Linked DNA regions of Homo sapiens: all the other regions are linked to region 1. Evidence: fine-mapped expression QTL. A gene starts in region 1. Each other region holds a variant in brackets. All regions are shown on one strand. Distances are between the middles of the regions. Region 1 holds the start of VDR (vitamin D receptor). Region 2 overlaps VDR (vitamin D receptor). Region 3 overlaps VDR (vitamin D receptor). Region 4 overlaps VDR (vitamin D receptor). Region 5 overlaps VDR (vitamin D receptor).

Region 1 (4,117 bases):
ATGGGACCCAGCCAGAGCATAGACTGTGAATTCCCCAGCTTTTTGCAGTTTGAGTCAGCCCCACAGCTGGATTGGCCTCCCAGGACTCTTCTCAAATAGGTCCAGAGAGGCTGCTGAGTGGGGGCCACGGACTCTGCAGGGAGGGCTACTTCTGTTCAACGATCTCTAGCACCCAAAACAAAAGCCAGGGAGAAATGTGCAGTCTTACTACCTTCTGGTCTGGCTGCATGCCAGCCCTGAGACTGTTTCAGAAAGACTCACAGTTCCCTCCAGCACTTGGACAGGGAAGGGACGGCAGGTCTCTCAACACACAACACTCTTAGTCCATAGAATTGAGGCTCCAATGTTCAGATAACCCATTTCTACCTCAGCAAATCACCCTCACTCCCTAGCCTGAGTTAAAGCCTTCTTTGCCAACACCATGACTTCTCTGGCCCCAGACTTTCCTAATTTCTTTTGCTCACCCCCTTCACTAGCAGAGATGGGCTGCTAATGAGACCACTAGGCAGAAATGGAAGGAAGGGCTGGAAAAGCCTGCAGTGCTGGGATGCACCTCCTTATCCCAGGAGAAAGATGAGATGTAGATTTATCATAAAGCCACTATCCCTTCACGGTCACCTCCTGCTAGAATCATCTCATAGCCATTCCATAAGCACTGCTGTGTTGGGTATCTGAGCCCCTGCCCATGAGGAAGACCACCTTCCAGCAGGGAGCTGGAGCAGAGCTGAACTCTGCCCAGGAGAGCTTCTGCAATGCTCAGAAAATGCCTGCCCAACTGCTTGCCTGGGCTCTGGCCCCTTTGGCTGCAACTGAGCCCAGACAGGAGGCTGACTCACTCACCGCACGCATAGAGGAGGAGGAGGAACAAGAGGAGGAGGAGGAGGAGGAGGAGAAGGAGGAGGAACTGTGAGAAGGGTCTGGGCTTGGAGACCTAAGGCTCCCCCAGCCCAGGCTAGGTCTCAGACTCTGGTCCCTGGGTGAAGAGAAGGAGGGGCAGTTGTACACTGGCCCTGGAGACCACAGGCTGTTCCCTCCTAGATACTTCTGAATCTTCCTCACCACCACCCACAGATCCAGGGCACCTCACTTTTCAAACAGAAACTACTCCTTGAGCCCCTTCCTCATTTAAATGCTTGCCCCTGAGTTCCTCTGAACATCTATTGACAGGCTGTCCTGAAAAAAAATAGGGCCAATTAGGTCTAAACTCATTGGTAGTTCAAAGAAAAGTAAAAAAAAAAAAAAAAAAAAAAAAATTACTTAAAAGACCCAACTCCACCATCACAGGTGACCATACCTGGGCCCTGTAAGACAATAAATAAGGTTACACACCCTCCACTCCAGCAGTTCTGAGCACCATCGACAGCCAATCGCTCCTTTTCTTATTCCTCCACTCCATGCCAAGGCGCCCCGACAGAAGAAGGAAACAAATACTTCTTGTTGCCCAAGTGCTAAGCACTGTGTTAGCGGAGCATTTCTCCTAAGCGCCGAGGATGTCGCTGCTCCCCTCGCCAGCCTGGCACGAACTTCAGCTTTCTCAAACCTCAGTGCCCCTTAGTGTCCCAGCCTCATGGCACGACAGCCCGGACCTCAGTAGCCAAGTTTACCGCTGAGACTTAGACTCTAATGCTCGCAGCCGGGCGCTCAGGCCCCGGTATCCCAGACGCCCCGACCCCGAGTCCCTATCCTGAGACCCCCTTTCCCGCTGCTCCCGGGTTCGCACCTGGTCCGGCCGGCGGGTGGACAAGCTGTTCCGCGCTCCCGGCGCACACGGCTCCGCTGCCGCCTTTTGACAAGCAGAGACAGCCCAGCACCTGGCCCCGCCTCTCGGTCAGGCCCCGCCCCGGCCCCGCCCCGCCCCTCCGCCCCGCCCACAGGTCCAGTCCTCTCTTGCCAGGAGCTCCGTTGGCGCTGCAACCATCTTGACTTGGAATCAACCACCCTATAGGCCACGCTGTAGCCTTAGATACTCTAACTCGTGAAATTTTCATCGACCGTCGTCCATAGGGCAAGGCACGCTTCTGCCCTCTGTGGGACAGAGTTGTCGATGATTATAGGTGCGGATACCCGCTTCAGCCTGTGTTAATCGGGGATGCAGCCCCCCACCCTTCCTGCCGTGGTTCTACCCAGCCTGCTGCGGACGCCTGAGCCAGGTGCGTCACCCCCACCTGGGCTGACCAGGCCAGGACTTCGTCGTCCGCGGGACGCTGGGGGGCGCCTGCCGACTGGCACCGGCGGCTAGCTCCGCACGAATGGGAAATCCCGGGCTCCGCTCGCCAACCTGTTACTGCTGCAGAACGCCAGGAAGCTCAGCCTGATCCCACAGATTAGGGTAAAATATCCCGGGGGGCCGAAGTGGAAACCGGAGTTGCGTCATTGCTCCCACCCGATATCACCTTGGCAGCGACCGCGGCTGACCACGTTCCCGGCCTGTCGCGAATCTCACCCAAGGGAGCTGAGTCTCAGCTTCCCTGGTCCCTGGTCCCGAGTTCCGCCTTCCCCCCCCGCCCCGTGGCATCGGCGTGAGGGGAAAAGATAAAGACTACCTCCTGAGACCTGGAATTGTGGATGGCTGCGGAAAACTCACCACAGGAAATTTTGGCTTAAAGTTATTCTCTGCTTCCCTTGACTGTGTGATAGGCACCGCTCTATCTGCTAGAGGACAGGTGAAAAAGATGGGGTTCCCTCTTCTTAGAACTCACTGTGCAGTGGGAGAATGTATAAATAAATAGTAATTACAACATAATCTTCTGGAATAGAAATGCTCACAAAATCATCCAGCAGTCGATGACCTCCTTTAGCCAGGGAAGATATTGCTATTCGCCTCTTACAGAGGAGGAAACCATGGCTCAGAGGGACAAGGTGAAAGGGTGGGAAATTGAGGCATAGAAAGTTTAAGTGATATGCCCAACATGACTCAGCTAATCAATGAAGGACTAGTGCTAGAGCCCAGCAAATCTGCTGGTGCAATGGTCTCTGAACCATTTCTGAGACAGCTATGCTGGACTACATCATAACCAGCCCCTCACAACTCAATAATAGGGTTAAAAGAAATAGACTGAGATTAAATAGAAGGAAGAACCTTCCAACAGTGAAGTTTGTTAAGCACTGCAACAGTTCATTATGGAGGTATCATGGCAACTTTCTGGGAAGACTTAAACAAAAGACAGAAGAGAGGCATAGCGTTTGATTGAACTTGGGAATGGACCATTTATTCTGAGAAACAGATGAAGTGCCCCTTTAGAGGTCCTGCCAGTCTGATGGATGGATTCTCTACCTGTAATGAAAGTAATAGGAAGGATCCCCTTGCCCAAAGCATCGTGGGAAAGCTAGCGGTGATTCTTGTGGGAAGAAAAGCATAAGAGGAAATTTCCAACCACCAATACCTTGGGACATTCTCTGCAAGTCCCATGAGCCTCTGAAAGAGGTTGAACACTCAGAAGTCACTTTTGTGGTGCTTGACTGGCCTGACATCTTGCAAATAAACCTTATCAAAAGATGGTGGAAGATGCGTACTAAGTATTCCGTAGTAACTGAGAGTTAGTCTTTTTTCACAGCCTTTGTTGGAGGAGAGGTACTTGTAATTCACATGTGTAAACTGCTTTATAATTTAAAAATTCTTTGGAATATCTTACTTGATCTTTATCATAGCCTTTTCAGACATGAAGAGTAAAAAATACCGTTCCATTGTACAACTGATGTGCAGAGTTGTCAAGGTTTCTACAGCTGAGGAGTGTCAGAGCTACTGGACCCAGATCTTCTCTCTGCACATCCCACTGTTTCATGCTGCCTCTAAAAAACAAAAAAAAAATTTCCATGCATGCACTTTTCACAGAGTTGAAGAACTCAGAGGTTCTGCGTTTGGCAGATGGGCAAGATTATAGATGTCATCACGGTCCCCAGCACATGCCGTCATCAGCCCCGTCACCTTGTCTGTAACCATGTTCTTCCCATATTCCCCCAATACCTGAACTGTTCTCTCTCATCCACCTCTCCAGACCCTCTCCTCTTTCAGGTCCTGCCTATTCCATCAGGCTTTTCCAACATCTCCAGGAAAGGAACTGTCAATTCTCTGGTCTTTGTAGCGCATGCATTTTCTATATTGCATGGTTTGGCACCT
Region 2 (4,117 bases), 50 kb before region 1:
TGGCCAAGATGGTGAAACCCCAACTCTACTACTAAAAATACAAAACTAGCCAGGCGTGGTGGTGCGTGCCTGTAATTTCTGCTACTCAGGAGGCTGAGGCAGGAGAATTGCTTGAACCCAGGAGGCAGAGGTTGCAGTAAGTTGAGATCGCGTCATTGTACTCCGGCCTGGGCAACAAGAGGGAAACTCTGTCTCAAAAAAAATACAAAAAATTAGCCAGGCATGGTGGCACGCTCCTGTAGTTCCAGCTACTTGGGAGGCTGAAGCAGGAGAATTGCTTGAACCTGGAAGGCGGAGGTTGCAGTGAGCTGAGATCGCGCCATTGCACTCCAGCCTAGGTGAAAAGAGCGAAACCGTCTCAAAAAAGAAAAAAAAAATTAACACTGCATGAGTATTTAAATATAAGTATTATATACAGTACTAGTGTTAAAACAATGAAACATAGGAATAAATGAATGAAATTTATATGAATGAATTGATAAAGGAGGATCCCTTCTCCAGTAGAACTCCTTATACTTATATATTTTGGCAAAAATGTATCAGTATGGTTAGGAAATGGTCTTTATTTTTTTCTTTTTTGAGACAGGGTCTTGCTCTGTTGCCCAGGCTGGAGTGCAGTGGTGAAATCATGGATCACTGTAGCCTTGACCTCCTGGGCTCAAGTGATTCTCCTGCCTCAGCCTCCCTAGTAGGTGGGACTACAGGCATGTGCAACCACACCTGGCTAATTTATAATTTTTTTTTTTTGTAGAGAAGAGGTCTCACTATGTTGATCAGGCTGGTCTGGAACTCCTGGGCTGAAGCAATCCTCCTACCTCAGTCTCTCAAAGTGTTGGGATAGGCATGTGCCACTGTGCCCAGCCAGGAAATGGTCTTTAAATGTACATTTTGGTGAAGGATGCCAGGGTCATATATGCCAGTAAACCTATCTCTCTCCAGGATTCCTAGACTGTTTCACAAGTCTACATGGCCAAGCCCTTCTCTCTATCACTTCATTCTGCTCTCAGAGTTGGGGTGTGGAGGAATCATATCGTTGAATTTAAAGAGATAATATGAGGATTCCAGTCAAGCCAGCTGGAGTGAACACAGCAGTGAGCTGGGAGTTCTAGGCCTGGCTCTGACATGCTGGCTCCAACACCTGGAAGGGATCCTGGCTGGCCATTGGACCTCTCTGGGCTTCCACACCATCATCCAGAAAGTGCGGGGATGGACTAGCTCTCCAGTGCTGGCCTGCAGAGTAACGCAAGACAGGCTGCACTTTCTAAATACAGATTTCTGGGCCTACGCCAGAGATTCTGATTTCGCAGGTCTAGGGTAGGGTCTGAATCTCTATTTTAAAGAAGCAATGGAGGCTGGCTGCTGTGGCTCATGCCCGTAATCCCAGCACTTTGGGAGGCTGAGGTGGGTGGATCACTTGAGGTCAGGAGTTTGAGACAAGCCTGGCCAACATGGCGAAACTCCGTCTCTACTAAAAATAAAAAAATTAGGGCAGGGCGCGATGGCTCATGCCTGTAATCCCAGCACTTTGGGAGACCAAGGTGGTTGGATCACGAGGTCAGGTGATCGAGAGCAGCCTGGCCAACGTGGTGAAACCCCGTCTCTACTAAAATTATAAAAATTAGCCGGGCTTGGTGGCCCACACCTGTAATCCCAGCTACTTAGGAGGCTGAGGCAGGAGAATCACTTGAACCCGGGAGGCGGAGGTTATAGTGAGCCAAGATAGTGCCACTGCACTCCAGCCTGGGCATCAGAGCGAGAATCTGTCTGGAAAAAAAATAAAAATAAATAAATAAATAAATAAATAAATAAATTAGCCGGGCGTGGTGTCTGGTGCCTGTAATCCCAGCTACTTGGGAGGTTGAGGCAGGAGAATCGCTTGAACCTAGGAGGCGGAGGTTGCAGTGAGCCGAGATCGCGCCACTGCACTCCAGCCTGCGTGACAGAGCAAGATGCCGTTTAAAAAAATAAAAAATAAAAAAAAGAAGTGGTGGATGAGTGATCTCCAACCCTTCTTGTAGCTCAGTCTAGGACTCTGACTCTGTTCCCCAGAGATTGCAGAAGTTTCTTACCTGAATCCTGGTATCATCTTAGCAAAGCCAATGACCTTTTGGATGCTGTAACTGACCAGGTCAGCCAGGTGGGGCAGCATGGAGAGCTGGGACAGCTCTAGGGTCACAGAAGGGTCATCTGAATCTTCTTCACTCAGATCCAGATTGGAGAAGCTGGACGAGTCCATCATGTCTGGGAGAGATGAGGGAAGAGAAGGAGCTATTTAAGGATACTTGGACCAGGCCCCCTCCTGCCAGACCCTGCAAAAACCTGGTGTGCCCTGGCAGCAGAGCCAGCTGGGAATCCCACAGTGACTCCACAGGTCACCCTTCAGCCCCAGGCTTCCCTCTGGGACTCTCTCTGCCTCTTTCAGCAGCATAAGGCAGTAAAATCAAAGAGCCAGAGACACTCAGAGCAATGAGACTTCCTCAAGCAGACTGTGTGCTGTTCCTATGGATCTCAATCAA[G/A]AAAGAATTTGGGACCCATCAAGTCATGGAAAAAAATGTTCAACCTTGCTAATGGTCAAAGAACTGCAGTGTAGAACATCTATAATTTTCACCTACAAACCAGAAACAAAAATGTTTAAATATTGATGCCAGTATTTATAAAGATGCAGGAAATTAGGCAATGCCTATGAGGGCTGGGGTGCTAAAGGAGGTGCACATTACTGAAGGTACTCTAGAAAGCTATTTGACATTAGTCAAATAATTGTGTGTACTCTTTGACCAGTAGTCACACTTCCTGGAATTCATTGTAAGGGAAAATTTCCGATAAGTGTAAATATTTGGCTACAAGTATACTGTTTTCTTATTAAAATGCTGAGAAATAATCCAGATATCCAATGGTAGGGGATTAGGTACATTATTGTATTCCAGAATACTATGCAGCCCTTAAAAATTATATTCTGGATGCGTACTAACTGGTATGGAAAAACAATGCCATATAAAAAAAAGCAAGTCATCAGATTGTATACAGCACAATTTCTTTTCTAAATATACATATGTGTTTTTTTTAAAAAAAAAAAAAAAAAGAAAGGAAGGAAAGCATGATGCCTCCCAGACTCTCAGCTGAGCTGGAGGGGACAGGTCCTCCAGGGCCAGAGTGGTCCCCAGAGCTCAAGTGGAAGGTGGACCTCAATAGGACCAACACGTTCACCTTCCCACTCCAAATTTCACCTTCTGAAGGGCCCAGGATTAAAATATCACGTAAAGGAAGCAGGTCACCTCCACGGAGGGGGCCATGGGCTGAAGCCTGGCTTAGAGGAAACAGCATGGGCCCGGGAGGCTGATGCTACACAGCTGGAATCCCAGCTTGGCCTCTTCCCCAGTGTGGGCCCTTGGGTAAGTCACCCCTTTCTGTAACAGAGGGGCTGTTGTGAAGACGCTGCATAGCGCACAGTATTTATGTAAGTTTCCATTAGGGAGCCTTCCACCTCCTTCCATCCAGCAGCCCCAGGGCAGGTGCGGTGGACTCCTCGCCCCCGCTCCCTTACTCTATGGAGGACTGAAGTCCTGCTTACCTGAAGAGGTGATACAGTGATCTGAGCAGGAGGAGGAGGAGTCCCCAGAGAAGCTGGGAGTGTGTCTGGAGTTGGGCCTGGAAGGATGGCTCCCTCCACCATCATTCACACGAACTGGAGGCTGGAAGGGAAAGATGGGGTCTCAGACCCACATTTTGGGGTTGCCTTCCTACCTTGGCCCTGATCTCTGATAGGAATGGCTTTGAGGAAGGTCTACAGGAAGGCGAAGCCTCCCAGTGCCAGGGGCAGAGCAGCCTCCGTCCCTACCCCAGTTCTGTTCAGGATGTCCCCTGCCCTCTGTCCCTACTCCCTGGGCCCTGGCTCCACTAGTGCTTCTCCTCTGGACCGGCTCATCCTCCCAGCAGGCAGACATACCCGGAACTGGCAGAAGTCGGAGTAGGTGGGGTCGTAGGTCTTATGGTGGGCGTCCAGCAGTATGGCAATGATGCGCTGCTGCTCCTCAGACAGCTTGGGCCGCAGACTGTCCTTCAAGGCCTCCTCCTCCTTCCGCTTCAGGATCATCTCCCGCTTCCTCTGCACTTCCTCATC
Region 3 (4,117 bases), 25 kb before region 1:
AACTGGCCCTGATCAAACAGGAATGCAGGTACATTCCTGACACTGCCTGGATGTTCCAAGGTTGGCTTTCAGACCAGGACAAACAGTCCTTGGGTGAAGATATGGGTACAGATCGTGATGACCCGACAAGAGGTGCCATTTCCCTTGTTCCAAGGAACAGTTTGGATTGGATGGGAAGGCAAGCTCTGAAACCAAGTTCTTGGGCTTTCCCCAAAGACATGCCTGTCTCTTGGGTGAGGAAGCTGTGATCATCAACAGGGAGGAGGTTCACTCTGGAAGGATGGACACGTGGGTTGGTGTAGGAGGCTGTGGGTTACAGGCGTAATGGAAAGACAGAGACCCACACAGCAACCTCAGGAAAGCGATTTCCAAGAGAGTCAGAGGAACATCTGGAGCTGAGAGGAGGGAAAAGAAGATACCACTCACCAAGACCCTCCTGCTCCTGTGGCTGTGAGCGCCGCATGTTCCATGGACATTGTAAGGAAGGAGATGTGAAAAATGCAAGGGCTCCCTTCATGGAAACACCTTGCTTCTTCTCCCTCCCTTTCCACTGGGGAGAGCCTGGGAGGAGGGCTCACCTGAAGAAGCCTTTGCAGCCTTCACAGGTCATAGCATTGAAGTGAAAGCCAGTGGCTCGGTCTCCACACACCCCACAGATCCGGGGCACGTTCCGGTCAAAGTCTCCAGGGTCAGGCAGGGAAGTGCTGGCCGCCATTGCCTCCATCCCTGTAAGAACAGCAAGCAGGCCACGGTCAGAGCCAGAGTCAGTGCCAGGGCCAGCTGGCATCCTTGGTGCCACCCACCCCCAGCCTCATCCCACCGCCCCCACCCCCCACCACCAGGGAGCTCAGCAAGGGTGGGCATCTCCCCAGGGCCCAGGCCTGAGCACAGTGCCTTCGGAGCCCTCATACATGATTCGCCCTACATAGCTGGCTCAGAGCATGGCTTGGAATCAGCTGCCTGGTTTCAGATGTTGCATCTGTCAGGTTAATTTGGGTTTAGTGGTTCACCTCTGCATGCCCCCGCTGTCTGCATTGGAAGAGGTGTTTTACTTCCAGGGTGTAAGGATCATATGCATGAACCCATTCATGCTACTGGCACTAGCTCTGCCTCAGGCACAGACCTGAACCAGGTCAGGGGCTTCTATCCTGCCCAACGCCCCCTCCAAGGGAAAATGAGAGTCCTCCCTCAGCCTCAGCACCTACATGTGGAGAGAAACCCTCAGGTCTCCTCCTCTTGAGGGTGGGGGGAATTGAGGATTTAGGTGCCCTGGTCATTCCAGCCCCAGCTCCTCACAACCATAAAGCTCAGGGCTAATAGGCTTATGCCCCTGGTGTTCCTGTACCAAGACAATCAACATTTCAAGATATTTCCCCCCCCTTTTTTTGGCAATAACACTTAAAACATTATTTTGAATGTCCTTCTGAGTCATGTGAGTCCTATACAATTAATTGTGTTTTCAGAGATGGTTTTTCTAAACAGGCATTATCATCTAGAGATGGATTTCATACTTGAGGAAAAGGAGAAGAGACAGACGGAACGAAAGCCCACAGCTTTGGGAAGGCCTTCTCAGGAAGCAGCTGGCTTGACTCTTTCATTAGCCAAAACTGGGCCCCCAGCTTTGTCTGCTGCGTCTGATCCCGTCTACTGTCAGGCTCAGAGATGATTCTGGGATACCTCAGACTGCCCTGAAATGCTTTCAGACCCTACTGCCTCCCAGTTCTCCCAATTTTATCTGAATCCTCAAAAGGGTCATTACAGGTTTCAGTGACCCCTTTGACCCTAGGCAAAGGGTCCTTCTTGTCAGAAGAAAAATAAGAGAGAAAGCCAGGAAACAAGAGACAAGAACCCACTCCACCCCAGGGTACCATTTCCTCCTGCCCTTGGGTGACAGAGGCAGATTCTGGGGGCCCTTGGGAGGCTCTGAGCTACTTTTCAATGACTAGGCCCATGATCTCTGATCTAGGGTGTGGAATATCAAAGCTCATTAAGTCTTATTTCACCTTCATACCACTTCATGGTGTAGATGCTATTATCATCATCCCCTTTACAAATGAGGCCCAGAGAGGCCCAAACCTTAAGATATGTCTAGAAACCACTACTGCCAAATGAATAAAACAAATACTTTCTAAAAATTCCCCAAAGAGCTTCACACCAAGGGAAAGAAGTGGTGCAGATAAGCAAGAATATGTTATCATCAGTCCCAAAGGGACAGAGGGAATCCCGGTCACAGACCTCGGAGATTCCCTAACCTCATTTAGCTTTTCTTTTCCTGGAAACCTTAATGTATTAGGTTGGTGCAAAAGTAATTGTGGTTTTGGCCATCAAAAATAATGGCAAAGATCGCAATTACTTTTGAACTATCCTAATAGTAATAGTGACACTATTGCTAATTTCTTTCACAGCTAGATTTATACTTGC[T/C]AAACTCTAATGTATATATAATATATACATTAAATATATAAATACATATTAATATATATTATATATTAATATATATTAAATATATAAATACATATTTAATGTATATATTAAATTTTAGCAGCTACATATACATTAAAGTTTAGCAAGTATAAATATATACCTATATATAAAGAGAGAAGCACTTTCAGAAAGAGAACAAAGATCATTGCAGCGATAGCAAAGACACAGAATCAACCCAGGTGCCCATCAACTCTGGACTAGATAAAGAAAATACAGTATATGTGTGTGTGTGTGTATATATATATATATACACACACATATACTGTCCTTTTTACACACGTATACTGTCCTTTTTACACACATACACTGTCCTTTTTCCTTTGCAGCAACATGGATACAGCTGGAGACCATTATCCTAAGGAAACAAAGCCAGAAACAGAAAACAAAATAGCACATGTTCTCACTTATAAGTGGGAACTAAACATCATGTACATATGGACATAAAGATGAGAACAATGGACACTGGGAATACAAGTGGACAGGGGCAGGGGCTGAAAAACAACCTATTGAGTACTATGCTCGCTACCTGGGAGACAATTCATTCATACTCAAAACCTCAGTATCTTGCAATATACCTTTGTAACAAACCTGCACAGGTACCCCCTGAACCTATAAGAAAAGTTCAGAAAAAAAGAACAAAGGAATGATTAACAGAAACCTTTGGAGAGATGAGATCGGGGAGGGGTGTGCATTATATAGTAGCAGTATTCTATTTTTTGAGTAGTGAGCATATGGTATCTTCTTCTTATTATTATTAGCAAAACACTACATCTATGTTTTGTATATCTGTGTTTGCATGCCCTTCTGAATATACAAAACGTTTCATAATTTAAAAAACAATTAAAAATAGAAAAAGTGCTTGTGGATCTATCAACATTGTCCCCAAAGACCATCCCAAGTCCAAGCTGATGCCTGCAGGTTTTAGAACATAGCACACATTCAAGATGTGGCCAGCATCCCGGAGGCCCAATATCATTGTGGGGTAATAGGGGAAACTGTCCAGGATGCTTGTGGCTTAACCCTGGGTCAGCTGAGATGCTGCAGCTCCGAGTCATCGTGGTGTTGCTACAGAGTCTGGGTCATCCAGGCTCCCAAGTATCCGGTGGATTTCGTGGAAAACAGAGAAATCAAATGGGGGGTAGGAAGGAATATCTGTTAAATCAGTCAACACATGTTCAGCATCACATGGACTCATTTGGAGATGCTATGATGCAAGCGAGTGGAACAACATACTACCACAGCACAGCAACGGGGCAGTCCTGCAATGGGGTGGGGTGCTGCCTTGACATCAGGAAGTCTCTATGCTGGGGGTGAAGGCTGGAAAGGCTGGATCAAGCAGCCAGAGGCCCACAGTGAATGAGACCATTTCAGGGGAGCTGACAGAAGACCCAACCCTGCTTGAGGTTATTTGCTGCTATCAAGAAGCCAGCGCCCAGGACCAGAGTCCACATGTGGAGATGTCCAAGCCTCTGTGGCTTGAGAGCTGAAAGTCCCAGGAATGACAGGCAGAGACTAAAGAAGGCAGCAAAGAGAAAGAGGAGATGGGGGCTGGATAGGAAACATCAGACGCACAGGAGAGCCCAGCCAGGGTCGTGGCTGGAGCCAGCAAGCCCCATCTCCTGAGCCCTTCTCTGAA
Region 4 (4,117 bases), 36 kb before region 1:
TGTGTGTGTGTGTGTGCACAAGTGTGCACATTTAAGGGCTCATTTTCCTAATTCGAACATTCTCTCCCACTGCCAGCCACACCACGTGGACTTTGGGAGGCTGCATAAAGGACACCTCCCTGAGGCACCTCCCTAGAGGCTTTTCATCATCCATGTCCTGAGAGTCCTGTCCTCCTCCCAGCCCCAGCAGGAGTAGGCCCCACTTTTCTGACATAGTTAGATGGGGAAAGATGGTGGCAGAATCACTGTCTGCATGAGCAGCAGCATCTTCCAAGGAACTGCTGAGTGTGAAGATGCCCAAGCCTTCCAAGCCAAAGCCCAGGCCCAACCATTTCCTTCCTGGAGATGAGCTACTGACGTCATCTGCTCAGGGGCCAGGCATTAGTTAGGATTCTTGGTAAAACATGACTCACTGTTCACATTCACTAGAACATACATGGGGTTGAGGGGAATCGCACTCATCAATTGTCAAGCTTGCTCTAGCAAATGGACAGCTGGGGACCACACCGACTCAGCCCCTGGGATAGAGAAGAGACCAGAGTAGGGCTCTACTGGCAGTCCCAGGCAGGCCCAGACTCTTAGATCCACAGAGGGCCCAAGAGACCGTCAGTGTAACTCCCTCCCTTTATACGTGGGACCACTGAGGTTAAGAAACTTACAGGTGAGGATATTCAGCAAGAAGTGCAGGCTCCTAGGTCTGGAAGTCTTAGGGATCTAAGGCTTAGCCTTTAGCTTCCTGGATTGTTTTCAACCCCAGAAACTTAAAGTGCTCAGTGAAGTTGATGCCCCAAACAGCCCCAGGTGGCTCAATGCCAAGAATGACCCAACAGTCAAGGAAGCAGCTGCTGTTGGTTTTGGACCTTGGCTCTGGTACCCTGCTGTGACAACCCTCATCACCCAAGGGGCCTACTGCAGAGCCAGGGTTGTCAGGAGGTGGAGCAGCACCAGGCTATCAGGGGCTCCTTAGCTCCAAGTCTAGCCCGCCTCAGGCCCAGTCCTAACCCTGCAGTAGCTAACAAGAAAGAAGTTATACGCCAGGCTTTTTTCCATCTTCGTAGAAACAAAAAGCCTTTTGCCGTTCACCTCTATTTGTTTACTGCTGCTTTTCTGGAGGGACAAGAGAATATGGAAGCATCTTGGGAACTGTTAGGGTTCCCCAGAAACGAGATACAATTATCCCCACAGGGACATCTGTATGTTCCAGGACATGAGATTGGTGTCCCTCCCACCAACCTTGTGGTTCTTGAGGCTTCATCCGTCACCACAAATGCTCAGGCCTCAGAATGCCCGTAATTCTCTAAACTTACTCAAGGACCAGAAGTTTCTATTTCAGAAGAAACTCTCATTTCCTTTTTTTTTTTTTTGTTTTTCAACAACCGGGCATTTCGCTCTGGTCACTGAGGGGCTGCTCTGTCCTCCCACTGGCTGTCTTGTCTGGCTCAGAGCTCTTCCTGTTAAGCCTGCAAGGCCATGGGCACCAAGAAGACAGCACATCGTCAGCCTAGCCCAGCCACCACCTACAGTGATGTGAGCCAAAGCCTCTCACCAGACTGGGCCCGGGACTGAGAGCTTCTTGAGGCCCCAGGGCCTATCAGAGGCCCCGTCTGTCCTTCCCCAGGCTCCAGGGAGCCTGCCTTTGACCCTCACTTGGGGGCAGCCCCCCCAGCTGCAGGGTTGCCTGAAAAGAGATTCCACTGCTTCGCCATCTTTCTCTCATTTTTCTCATGTCACTTTAAATATGAAGCTCCATCTCAGATGTCTATAC[G/A]CAGGAGGGTTGGAGATTGCCACTCAGCCCCACTTTGCCTGACAACAGGAATGAGGCTAGGAATAGGAAGAGAAGGCCGGGCGCGGTGGCTCACACCTGTAATCCCAGCACTTTGGGAGGCCGAGACAGGCGGATCGCGAGGTCAGGAGATCGAGACCATTGTGGCTAACACGGTGAAACCCCATCTCTACTAAAAATGCAAAACATTAGCCGGGCGTGTTGGCGGGCGCCTGTAGTCCCAGCTACTCGGGAGGCTGAGGCAGGAGAATGGCGTGAACCCGGGAGGTGGAGCTTGCAGTGAGCTGAGATCGTGCCACTACACTTCAGCCTGGGGGACAGAGCGAGACTCCATCTCAAAAAAAAAAAAAAAAAAAAAAAAGGAATAGGAAGAGAAAATAGTGCAGAGCTGAATTAAGAGAAAGTACTGGGACTGGGTGCAGTGGCGTGAGCACGCCTGTAAGCCCAGCACTTTGGGAGGCTGAGGTGGGCAGATAGCTTAGGCTCAGGAGTTTGAGACCAACCTGGCCAACATGGTGAAACCCTGTATCTACAAAAGATTAAAAAAAATTAGCCAGGCATGGTGGCATGCGCCTGTGGTCTCAGCTACTTGGGAGGCTAAGGTGGAAGGATCGCTTGAGCTGGTGAGGTCAAGGCTGCAGTGAACCAAGATTGTGCCACTGCACTTCAGTGTGGGTGACAAAGTGAGATCCTGTCTCTAGAAATAAAAAATAAAAGAGAAAGTACTGGGGGTAAAAAAAAAGTTTGGCGCCCTTGCTTCTGCTTAAGAGTTGTCATATGAAGCCCGAGAACACTGAAAAGGAAGAGGACACCATTACGCTCTGGAGCGTGGGGTCAGTGTTCAGGGTATAGAAAGTTTGCTCCCCAGCTCCAACTGCCAGACCCAGAGGCTCTCTGGAACTCAGATCCCAGAGCTGGCCTTTCAGGTGTGTCTGGCCCAACATGTCTGTTTGCTGGGCCACAGATCCTCTTGGCTCAGAGGTCCTGTTCTTCCCTGTTCTCCTGCCTTCCAAGGGCACTTCCACATGTGTGGCTGTCATTTACTCTCTGCCCACGAGGAGTCAGGGCAGCCAGACTGCCCAACCCTGGCTCTGTGCTTTGTCCTGAAGGTCTACACCCTACCCTGCCTTCCTCCCAATACTAATTGCCTGTGAGCTGGTTTGGATTTGAGAAACAAGAGCTTCAGGTTTCCATGAGAGCCCATTGCCTCAGCTGCTCTCTGAGCCTGGACCCTGTCATCCTCTGGTTGGTTGGCATTTATACCCCAGCTCAGGAAGGGGGGGTAGGGGTGGGGCAACCAAGCTAAATATAGATGCAGTTTCTAGAAAGCCAGGGGTGAGAGAGGACATTGACCGATTCTCATGCCAGAGACCAGTTTATCAAAACAGAAAGAGACAAAAACCTCACAAAAGCATCAAGAGCCTGGGGCCAGGGCCTCAGGCCTGGGACAGTTGGGCCTTTCTCCAGTAGGTGGCCTCTGCCAGCAGAGACGCACGTTGCATAACCCAGGCGTAGGGTCAACTATCCCCTCTGGGCTCCATCTCCACTGCACTGTCACAGAGATTCCAGCGTCTGCTCAGGATACAGGAACTAGCGAGAGCTCCTGATCTGAAAGCTATGTGAGGTGCTGGGAATGCTTACTAGTTTGATTATGGTGATCATTTCACAATGTATATGTATAGCAGAACATCGAGTTGTGCACCTGAAATATAGACCATGTCTATCTGTCAATTATACCCCAGCAAATCTAAAGGAATAAAAAGACCTACATCAAATGATGTAGGGGCCTACATGTATGTGAGAGGCAGCATCAGGGGGTTCTCCTCAGGTGGGTTTAAAAAAACATTAAAGGATGGTTAGCACTGTAGAAAAGAGCACAGACTTTTTTTTTTGGAGGGCAATTGGCAATGCGAAGCATGTTAAACACACAGACATTTTAACGCAGTAAAGCCACTTCCAGGTATTTATCCTGTGGGTAGATCGGTCCATGGGCGCAATGGTGGTTACTGCAGCTCTGTCTGGAGAAGCCAAAGACCGAACCTAAATGACCATGACAGAGGACTGGTTTCTTTCTTTTCTCTTTCTTTCTCTTTCTCTTTCTTTCTTTCTTTCTTTCTTTCTTTCTTTCTTTCTTTCTTTCTTTCTTTCTTTCTTTCTTTCCTTTCTCTCTCTCTCTCTCTTCCTTCCTTCCTTCCTCTCTTTCTCTCTTTCTATCTGTCTGTCTATCTGTCTTTCCTTCCTTCCTTCCTTCTTTTCTCTCTTTCTTTCTTTTTTTTTTTTTTCTGGATGGAATTTCACTCTGTCACCCACGCTGGAGTGCAGCAGCACGATCTG
Region 5 (4,117 bases), 60 kb before region 1:
GGGATTACAGGCGTGAGCCACCGCGCCGGGCCTGTCCTGGCCCACTTCTAGCTAGTTATATATGCTTGGGTGAGTCACGCCCTCCTCTGTCAGTTTTCCTGAATGAGGGGATTGACTCGTTTAGCAACTTACAAGTGTTTTCTCCCACTGAAGAGCAAGCTGGACCAATACGTTCTGCAGCTAAAATCAAACAAGGGTCTCTCCCTAGACCCTTGTAAAATAACAACAGCAATAATAATTAATGTACAGAAGTTTCACAATGTAAGTTCTCCCCCCATAAATATCTCCAAATCAGTGGTACCTGCTACCCTGTATATTAGACTATAATACAAATGGAGTCTGAGTCTGAAAACAACTCATATCTAATAAATTTAAGATTAAGCGATATATATGCTATTCTGCAGTAAGGAACGTGGCTTTCAGATGTTTTTCCACCTGAAGAATTCTGAGAGACATGGGGCCAGGTGGACACCAAGGCTCTTGCAGTGTGAAGTCTGATTCCTCTCTGGGTTTTCAGGGAACTACGGATGCAGGTGCAAGGACACAGCTTCCAGGAGTTGGGGCAGTCACGTTCCCACTGACTTTAACATTCCTGGTGACTCAGGGAATGCGGCCGCATTCCCCAAACTCAAGCACTGATCTGAAGAAGCCTCTGTGATCCACCTCGAAGAACGCCTTTCTGTACCGGTCCCGCACACCTACAGCTCACTCTCACAAAGACCCCACCTTGGAGTAAACGGACAGACGCTTCCCACCAGCTGGGCTGGGCTGGCTGCAGAGAGCATGCACTTGAAGTTGTATCACTCCGCCCCTGCCTCACAGGCACCTTTTGACTTTTGGGTGGTGGAGTGAGAATAAGAAGGCACCTTACCCTACATCACGGAACCCCCAAACACTCTCTCTGACTAGCCACCCGAGACTGCCCCGCTCTCCCTTCCCACACTCTGGGGTGCGGCAGCGCTAGCTCTTAGCCCTGTGGGTGAACAGCGGCCTTGCAACCACATTGAGGCGGCAGGGAGATCATGACTCAGCCGCTGGGGTCTGAAAATTCTTCTCCTCCATCCCACCCTGCCAGATGGAGAAGATGCGGCTCACTGCTTCTCCAGACCCTCTCCCCTGGGGAGGGGGTGGGGGAGCAGGCTCTCGGCTACTCTCGGTGATCCGAGGAGGACAGGGAGGGCTGGCTCTCCTGGGCAGGAGGTAAGGCACTGGCAGGGGGAGGACGAGGTCGGCAGGTGCTTTTCTGCAAACTGGGGACAATTCAGTCCTGCTACATGGATCCGTGGAAGGAGGGCTTCCACCTCAACCAACCCCTTAGACCCAGGGCGAGGAACTGTGAGCTTGGTGACAGGGACAGCTGTCATATTCTTCTGTGAGGCTGTTTTTGTCTGTTTTTCCTCCTTGGGTCTCTCAGCAGGTGGGTTCGTGCCTGGTGCTCCAGTGATGGGAAGAAAACCCACCTCACCACAGCTACTGCCCGTGAGAATATAACCAGGGCAATGGGATGTTGGTGGGCACTGAAGGGGGTGGGGTGGGAGCTGTGGG[C/A]CGATTATTTATCGTGAGTAGGCAGGAGAGGGAGACCCCACTAGGCGCTGGACAAGCGGGGCCTGCAGTGGGGGGAGGTGCAGGTGTCTCTGTCCCTGAGGAATGGATGCATTTCTCCTGTCTGTTCCCTCAACATCAGTCAGCAGCCACTTAGGCAGCGGTGGAGGCATCTCTGGGCAAGGCCCTGCCTCCAGCCTCTGCCCTCTGCCCCCACTTGGGTTTCTTTGTCAAACAAACAGCAACTCCTCATGGCTGAGGTCTCAAGGGACCGGGGAAAAGCCCGCAGGAAAGGGGTTAGGTTGGACAGGAGAGAGAATGGGCTGGGTGGATAGGGGAGGTGGCAGAGGAGGGGCTGAACCCCAGACGGGGTGAGGAGGGCTGCTGAGTAGCCGCCAGCCCCGGGCCTGGCACGTGGCCCTGGAGGAGCAGCCCCACCCAGGCACCGCCACAGGCTGTCCTAGTCAGGAGATCTCATTGCCAAACACTTCGAGCACAAGGGGCGTTAGCTTCATGCTGCACTCAGGCTGGAAGGAGAGGCAGCGGTACTGCTTGGAGTGCTCCTCATTGAGGCTGCGCAGGTCGGCTAGCTTCTGGATCATCTTGGCATAGAGCAGGTGGCTGCCCGGGGGCGGGTGGCGGCAGCGGATGTACGTCTGCAGTGTGTTGGACAGGCGGTCCTGGATGGCCTCAATCAGCGCGGCGTCCTGCACCCCAGGACGATCTGTGGGCACGGGGATAGAGAAGAAGGCACAGGAGCTCTCAGCTGGGCCCCTCACTGCTCAATCCCACCACCCCCCACCCACACAGACACTCAACGGCAGCACCCCCTAGGCCACCCCTCTATGACTGCTGACCGGTGATACCACTGCCTGGCCCCAAAGCCCTCCAGTGACTTCTCCGTGCATTTAGGATCCAGACCTAGGTCCTTCCATGGGCGCACCTGGCCCTGTCCCTGCCTGGCCTTGCTCCCTGTCCATGCTCTGTCCATCCCTCAGCGTCCCGATGCGCCATGCTCTCTGGCCACCAGCCTTCACATCTGTGCTCCCTCTGCTTGGAACTCTGCTCTGCTATCTTTGCCAGACTCTTACTGATCCTTTGGATAACAGCTTAAAAGGTCTTCCTCCAAAAGGCCATTCCTGGCAACACTCTACCTCTGTAGCCCAGACCACGTCAGCTTCCCTCCTTCTATTCTACCCTTCTGTAGCATCACTTACTTTATTTTTAAAACTCTTGCCTTGTTAGGAATTAATAATTAAATAACATTTGTTTAATGTTTCCTCCTAAGCTTCATGGGAGAGGAGCCTGTGTCCCATTTGCTGCTGAACCCCAGTACCTAGCATAGTGCCTGGTACCTAATAGGTGCTCAATAAATTGTTGCTAAGTGGATGAATGAATGAGAGAAGGCTGGCTGGGCAGGGGTAGAGGAGCCCATCTCCATTCCTTGAGCCTCCAGTCCAGGAAAGCATCCCTGGGCACAGGCCACTAGCACAGGCTGAGGCAGGGCCGCCCCTCTTTGGACCTCATCACCGACATCATGTCCCCAAGGTCACAATAACTTCCTCTTCGGCCTTTTCTCCCTCTTCTCACCTCTAACCAGCGGAAGAGGTCAAGGGTCACTGCACATTGCCTCCAAAATCAATCAGGTAAACTATATAGGCAGAACCATCTCTCAGGCTCCAAAGTTTTGTACCCTGCCCGCAAGAAACCTCAAATAACAGGAATGTTGAGCCCAGTTCACGCAAGAGCAGAGCCTGAGTATTGGGAATGCGCAGGCCTGTCTGTGGCCCCAGGAACCCTGCTTATCTAGTTCCTCAGAATCCCCCCTACGAATCGCCTGCACACTCTGCAAGGCAGAGCTAAGGGCAGTGAGGGGCACCTCAGCGTCCACACACCACAGGGGCTCTGCAAACCAGCAAAGTAGGTATTTCCTTATCTGTGTCTCCTTTTGCTACGTCTCCCTTCAGGTTGCCCAGCTGGCCCTCAGCAGGTCTTTGTCCTTCATACTCCCCGCTCCCCAGGTCCCTGAGCTCCTCCCTGCCTGGCCCCATACCTGGGGAGACGATGCAGATGGCCATGAGCAGGACATGCTCCTCCTCATGCAAGTTCAGCTTCTTCAGTCCCACCTGGAACTTGATGAGGGGCTCAATCAGCTCCAGGCTGTGTCCGGCTGTGAGAGACAATGGCCAGGTACTGCGGGCAGAGCTGAGGAGCCGCCCACCCACCTCCAACCCCATGGGTCTGACCCTCGCCCTTCTCTCCCTGTTGGTGCCTAACTCCCTCCCATGTATCTGATTGGAGCCAAACCCCAGGACGGGTGGAGCCAGAATCTGGGAGCTGAAAAAGACTCCCCAGGAGGTGGAGTCTAGGCATACCTTTGGTCACGTCACTGACGCGGTACTTGTAGTCTTGGTTGCCACAGGTCCAGGACATGTCGTCCATGGTGAAGGACTCATTGGAGCGCAACATGATGACCTCAATGGCACTTGACTTCAGCAGTACGATCTGGTCCTCAGAGGTGAGGTCTCTGCAGGGGAGGGAGGGAAGGAGGTCAGGTTACCAGTAAACGCCTTCA

Evidence for each region. PIP is the estimated chance that this variant, and not a neighbour inherited with it, causes the effect. A credible set is the group of variants that fine-mapping cannot tell apart.
Region 2: its variant is the best candidate, but not a certain one, in a credible set for the expression of VDR in testis (GTEx, PIP 0.61).
Region 3: its variant is the best candidate, but not a certain one, in a credible set for the expression of VDR in whole blood (TOPMed, PIP 0.68).
Region 4: its variant is the best candidate, but not a certain one, in a credible set for the expression of VDR in lymphoblastoid cells (GTEx, PIP 0.64).
Region 5: its variant is the best candidate, but not a certain one, in a credible set for the expression of VDR in whole blood (INTERVAL, PIP 0.60).

What each region holds. Positions count from the first base shown.
Region 1 is chr12:47,903,235-47,907,351 of GRCh38, forward strand. VDR (vitamin D receptor) reads right to left here and starts at 1,760. Exons shown (of 10, transcript NM_000376.3): 1 at 1,721-1,760. RefSeq lists an enhancer at 170-369 and a silencer at 1,753-1,882.
Region 2 is chr12:47,853,561-47,857,677 of GRCh38, forward strand. It overlaps VDR (vitamin D receptor), which reads right to left. Exons shown (of 10, transcript NM_000376.3): 5 at 3,944-4,117; 6 at 3,569-3,689; 7 at 2,070-2,241. Among named protein-coding and RNA genes, the nearest start is that of LINC02354, 26 kb to the left of the region's middle. The variant G/A (reference allele first, on the strand shown) is at 2,517.
Region 3 is chr12:47,878,390-47,882,506 of GRCh38, forward strand. VDR (vitamin D receptor) reads right to left here. Exons shown (of 10, transcript NM_000376.3): 3 at 579-726. The coding sequence starts at 724. Among named protein-coding and RNA genes, the nearest start is that of VDR, 25 kb to the right of the region's middle. The variant T/C (reference allele first, on the strand shown) is at 2,422.
Region 4 is chr12:47,867,416-47,871,532 of GRCh38, forward strand. All of the region lies in intron 3 of VDR (vitamin D receptor), which reads right to left. Among named protein-coding and RNA genes, the nearest start is that of VDR, 36 kb to the right of the region's middle. RefSeq lists enhancers at 1,078-1,578, 1,284-1,463, 1,564-1,633, 2,400-2,449. The variant G/A (reference allele first, on the strand shown) is at 1,766.
Region 5 is chr12:47,842,740-47,846,856 of GRCh38, forward strand. It overlaps VDR (vitamin D receptor), which reads right to left. Exons shown (of 10, transcript NM_000376.3): 8 at 3,918-4,069; 9 at 3,596-3,712; 10 at 1-2,266. The coding sequence ends at 2,007. Among named protein-coding and RNA genes, the nearest start is that of LINC02354, 16 kb to the left of the region's middle. RefSeq lists enhancers at 470-1,043, 1,044-1,616, 3,141-3,642. The variant C/A (reference allele first, on the strand shown) is at 1,546.